2 separate regions of the Homo sapiens genome follow, and region 2 is linked to region 1. Evidence: fine-mapped expression QTL. A gene starts in region 1. The other region holds a variant in brackets. All regions are shown on one strand. Distances are between the middles of the regions. Region 1 holds the start of ELK1 (ETS transcription factor ELK1). Region 2 has its middle 74 kb from the start of UXT.

Region 1 (2,911 bases):
CATTTTGCCCTTTCTTGTTTCTTTTCTCTAGGCTCAGCAACAGCCTCACCAAGGACTCCATGAATATCAAAGCCCATATCCACATGTTGCTAGAGGTGAGAGCAGCTCACCCCACTACCAGACTCTGTGTTTAGGGTGGTGACCTGAAGAAGGAAGAGAGCGAAAGAAGGGAAGGACCATCTTTCCCTCTAAACTGGAGTCAAGGGAGGGAGGTCAGAGCAAGCCTGGGGGCGTAACCCAGACCCAGTCTTTGTTCAATCTCTTCTGTCCTCTTTTTCAGGGGCTTAGAGAACTACAAGGCCTGCAGAATTTCCCAGAGAAGCCTCACCATTGACTTCTTCCCCCCATCCTCAGACATTAAAGAGCCTGAATGCCTTTGAGTCACATGGCCCTTCTTTTTCCCCATAAACCCTGCTAGTTGCCACGGGGGCCTGTTCCTAGGGCACAAAGTTACTGAGAGACCCAGAGATCCAGTCTCTCTGTGGAACCTCCAAAATGCCCCAGCAGTCCTGCCTCCAGCCTGTTGCCTGGCAGTATTTGCCAGTTGACCTTATGCACTGCCCTCTCTTCTGTCATCTTGGCAACCTGGGCCCCCCACCTCACCCTTTCTTCCATTCCTTTTCCTAGACGCCACCCTTTGAATTGCCATAGAGAATGGGCCAATTCATGGTGGAGGTTTGTTCATTCCCACAACAATCAAAGGGCCCTAAGGTTTACGCTTTCACACACCCAATCATTCCCCAGGTACCCCAAATTACACCCAAACCCTAACTCAGCCCTACCTTGTCTTAGCCCCTGCTTGTAAGTGTTCCAGCTTCCAATGGGCACAGACCTGGATCCCGCTCTCCCTAGTCGGGCCCCTATTCTAGGTTGAGTCCAGCCACCGCCAATCAATGCAGAGCCAGGTTCCTCCCCTTTTTAACTCTGGCCGCAGTTCAACCCTGCCCTCTGAAAGCATTTCGTTTCTGCCACTCAATGCTCTTTCGTGTGCCTGACAGCCATCCTGCCCTCCTACCTCCGCTGTGTTCTAAATTCGTCTTTACCCAGCTCTATGGTCTTGTCTAACCGTAGAGCTGCCCTGCCCGCCTACGCGGAGCCCAGTCCGACCCACTCCCGCCGGCTGCTACGCCCATTTCTATACAAGCCCTGCTTCCGCTGAGCAGCATGGCGTGCGACACCGCCCCCTTGGTGTTTTGGCAGGGGTCTAGAAGTCCCTCGTCCGCCAATCAGAGAAAAACAGGGCCACCCACCCCCGTCCTTGGGGGCTGTCTTCCATCAATCCCATGTAAGCCAATCAGTGTGAGGCAGACCCCCGCCCCCCCGACACAGGCCCCGAGCCTTTTCAGTTGCTCACAGTCCGTCAGTCCTTGAGCCAATCGGCGTGGAGCACCGTGAAGGCCGAACGCGCCTCCTCGGGACTCCAGGGGCCGTGAGCGTTCCATCATTTCCCCTTACGCCAATCACGGCACAGCTCTGTAGGGAAGGGCCCGTCCCCCAACCCCTCGAGGCCTTGCGGCCGATTAATAGCGCTTTGGCCAATCAGCGAGCGGCGGGACATTGGGCTCCTCCTCCTCGGGCCCACGTGAGCTGTAGGGAAACGCAGGGGCGGCTTCTAGGTGCTGCCGCCGCCACCGCCACCACCACCTCCACCGCCGCCTCGGAACCCAGGCCTGGGGGGCGGTGGGGCCGCGTATGGAGCCCCCGCCCCCCGGAGCTGCCAACATTGCCAACGCCACCGCCACGCTACACACAGGTGAGCTCTGGGCCTGGAGGGTGGAGGGCCCAGTCCGTGACCCCACGTATCCTTCCCGCCCCCGCGCAGAGGATGTGGCTTGGCCGGTGGCCTGCTGGTGTTCGACTCCCCGCCGCCACCACCACGGCTGGTGGACCTGCGTGTGGCATTGCTCAAGCCCTTCGTCCCTTATAGTGGATCTGACCGTGGCCTAACCTCCCCCTCCCGTTGTATAATGGATCGGTCTGCGTGCTTATGTTTTTCCCCACGCCAACTTAGGGTGGACTCGTCCATAGGCTTTCCCCCTACCCCTACCCCCACCCGCCCCCCACCCACCCCCACTTATAGGGAGCTAGCCTGTGACAGTGTTCAGCCCCCTTAATAGTAGGTGTATCTGAGTGTTTGGATTTCTCCTAGCCTCAACTTTCAGGAGACCCGTCCGTGGCCTTATTTATTCCACCCTTCCTGTACATCGTAGCGAATCAATCCGTGGCGCCGCACTCCTCCGCATCCCTCTTTAACAGTGAGTCTACCTGAGTTTGTATTCCTGCCTCCTCCAGTCCCCCAATGCATCAGTCCATGGCTTTTTTCAAAACCACCCCCCCCCCCCACCACCACCACCACCATTTTATAGTGGATCAGTCTTCATGTTTGGATTCACGTCCCTTTAGCTATCAGTCCATTGCCCTGTCTCCTCTTTTTCGTAGACTGTCGCTCTAGCGCTTGGGGTTCTCTCCTTTTTAATAGTGGGTTAGTTTAGTGCTTTACATCTCCCTATTTTCAGTAGCTCAGTCCATAGCCTTTTCCCTCTCTGCTTTGAATCAGTCTGTGTGATGGCTTTTCTCTCCTCTCACTGTGGTGCAGGAGTCTGTAAGGTTTTCTGCTCCCCTTCCCCTCAGACGATGAGCCTCATCACCCCTCCCTTTGCAGTGGATCTGTTCATTGGCCTTCCTCCCCCACACCCCTGTATGCTTGCACAGTCCCCCGCATACCCTCCCGTGAGTCCAGTGCTTTGTAATTGGGGGAAGATCGGCCGTGTACTTTCAATTTCCTTCTCTTTTTTTTTCCCTTCCCAGAAGAGAACGTGCTGATCCTCTTTTCCTTGTGATGGAGCACTGTACGGCCTTCCCTGTCCTCCACCTCTTAATAGTGGGTCAGCCTGGTCACACTCGTAACCAC
Region 2 (2,911 bases), 82 kb before region 1:
ACTCCAGCCTGGGAGACAGAGTGAGGCAAAAGTAATAATAAATAAATAAATTAATTAATTAATTAATAAAAACTAAGGACAAATGCTGGACTACAATCATGGGAAAAGCATGGATTTTTTACTTGAACTAATGGATCACCACTAAGGGATTCTATATACAGGAAATAAATATAAACTAACTTTTGTATCTTGAAAGAATAAATTCCACGTTACCGTTGTATTTTGTACTTCAGGATAACATGTTAAAAATAGAGACTTTTTTTTTTTTTTGAGGAACCGACCACGAGCAGGGCCATCACACAGAGTTTTAAGTCCAGACTGAAAACACATATTGTATGATCCAATATTCCTTTAATTTTGAACTATTTAAGGCATAAGAAGTGTCAAAAGGCTCCAGAGGAATATAAAAATGTAGGATAGTTTGTACCTAGATGAAACAAGATAATTAGAGAGGTGTGCACATGAAGAACCCGATGGGCTGAGTTCTGCACTGGCCCTGTGCCTTTGACTTATTTGGAAGACAGCTCTAAATCAGTGGTTCTCAACATTGAGCGTGTATCAGAATCACCCAGAGGGCTTGTCAGCACACAGACTGCTGAGCCTCACACCCAAAAGTTAGATATTCCGTAGGTCTGGCATAGGGTCCAAGAATTTGCATCTCTAACAATATCTCAGGTGCTGTTGGTGGTGGTCCAGGGAACACACTGGAAGAACCACTGCTCCAGAAGATGGCCATGGCAAACTCTATTGCGCATTTATCATTAGGTTGACCACCTGTCCAGTTTACACCTGCTGTTCCAGCATGATTATTAATGATACCTCTTTCACTTTCCAAAGTTTCTGAATTTGGATGATAAAGTATAAGGTCACCTCACCTATAATCCATAATGAGATCAAAAAGGGGTTTTGGAGCCGAGCACAGTGGCTCATGCCTGTAATCCCAGCACTTTGGGAGGCCAAGGCCAGTGGATCACTTGAGGTCAGAAGTTCGAGACCAGCCTGGCCAACATGGTGAAACCCTGTCTCTACAAAAAAATACAAAAATTAGCTGGGTGTGGTGGTGCATGCCTGTAATCCCAGCTACTTGGGAGGCTGAGGCTGGAGAATCCCTTGAGCCCAGGAGGCAGAGTTTGCAGTGAGCTGAGATGGTGCCACTGCACTGCAGCCTGGGTGATAGAGCGAGACTCTGTCTCTAATAAATAAATAAATAATACAAAAATTAGCCAGGCATGGTGGCACGTGCCTGTAATCCCGGCTAGTCAGGAGGCTGAGGCTGGAGAATCGCTTGAGCCTGGGAGGCGGAGTTTGCAGTGAGCCGAGATCGAGCCACTGCACTCCAGCCTGGACAACAGAGCAGGACTCTGTCTCAAAAATAAGGGGGGCGGGAGATGGTTTACATT[C/T]AATTATCAGGAAATCTTTACCCTGGAAAATGTTTTCTTCACCCTTGTAGTCATTTTTCTCCCTGAGGCCAAGGTAAATCCTACAAATAACTGCATTTTCTTTCCAGCTATGTCTGATAGGAAGCTCAGAAGGAAACTGGCAGTTTAATTTTACTCTGCAGAACCCTAGGGCCCAAATGCCTACAGCCCAAATCAATTCTGGTCCTGACTTCATCCATTCTTTCTATATTTTCTCTGATCTAATTTTTATGGAGCTATACTTGTACATTTTACTACAGGGATTCTTAAAAGCTCACAAAAGCTGCTGAACTGCAACGGGTGCAACAAATACATGAATTAACGATAACTCATGAGAAACGTGGTTATTTCCTGACTTTCTTGGGTAGGGACATAGGTCTGTGAAGTCAAGGTTGTGTTGCTCAGATTAAGCAGGCTGGAAATCTCCACACTTCCGCTGGACAAGAGGCTGCACCCCATGGAAAGCCAGAGAACTCCATGCCTCTGTGATCACAAGCTGCATATGTGTGACTGATTTGATCATGTGGCATTTGGAAAAAGGCAGATTTCTCATTGGGACTAAGTGTGCAATTGTCCCCTCCCAATTCATTTATTATTATTATTATTATTATTATTATTATTATTATTATTATTATTATGTGAGACACAGTTTCGCTCTGTCGCCCAGGCTGGAGTGCAGTGGCGCAGCTTACTGCAACCTCCACCTCCCGGGTTCCAGCAATTCTCATGCCTCAGCCTCTGGAGTAGCTGGGATTACAGGTGTGCGCCACCATGCCCGGCTAATTTTTGTATTTTTATTTATTTTTGAGACAGAGTCTCGTTCTGTCACACAGGCTGGCGTGCAGTGGCACGATCTCAGCTCACTGCAACCTCCGCCTCCCTGGTGCCAGTGATTCTAGTGTCTCAGCCTCCGAAGTAGCTGGGATTATAGGCGCGTGCCACCATGCCTGGCTAATTTTTGTATTTTTATTTATTTATTGAGACAAGAGTCTTGCTCTGTCGCCCAGGCTGGAGTGCAGTGGCGCGATCTGGGCTCACTGCAACCTCTGCCTCCCGGGGTCCAGAGATTCTCCAGCCTCAGCCTCTCAAGTAGCTGGGATTATAGGTGTGTGCCGCCAAGCCCAGCTAATTTTTGCATTTTTAGTAGAGACATGGTTTCACCATGTTGACCAGGCTGGTCTGCAACTCCTGACCTCAACTGATCCACCCACCTCTGCCTCTCAAAGTGCTGAGGTTACAGGCATGAGCACAGCGCCCAGCCCATTTATTATTAACACCTGTCCTTACACCCTGACCCAAGAGTACAATTTCTAAAACTATATCTGTAGAAAATAATCATGTATGTGCACAAAGATTTAAATGTAGGAATTTTACCACGGCGATGTTCATAACAGTTAAAACCAAAACCAACTTTCATAAATATTTATTAACAGCATATTGGTTATATAAATTATGATATATTCAAAGATACGCTATTTGCAGCTGTTAAAATT

Evidence for each region. PIP is the estimated chance that this variant, and not a neighbour inherited with it, causes the effect. A credible set is the group of variants that fine-mapping cannot tell apart.
Region 2: its variant is the best candidate, but not a certain one, in a credible set for the expression of ELK1 in whole blood (TOPMed, PIP 0.50).

What each region holds. Positions count from the first base shown.
Region 1 is chrX:47,649,265-47,652,175 of GRCh38, reverse strand. ELK1 (ETS transcription factor ELK1) reads left to right here and starts at 1,613. Exons shown (of 7, transcript NM_001114123.3): 1 at 1,613-1,753; 2 at 2,150-2,255. UXT (ubiquitously expressed prefoldin like chaperone) reads left to right here. Exons shown (of 7, transcript NM_004182.4): 6 at 32-95; 7 at 281-380. The coding sequence ends at 334. RefSeq lists a silencer at 1,429-1,838 and a cis regulatory region at 1,170-2,150.
Region 2 is chrX:47,731,242-47,734,152 of GRCh38, reverse strand. It overlaps the pseudogene CXXC1P1. Among named protein-coding and RNA genes, the nearest start is that of UXT, 74 kb to the right of the region's middle. The variant C/T (reference allele first, on the strand shown) is at 1,401.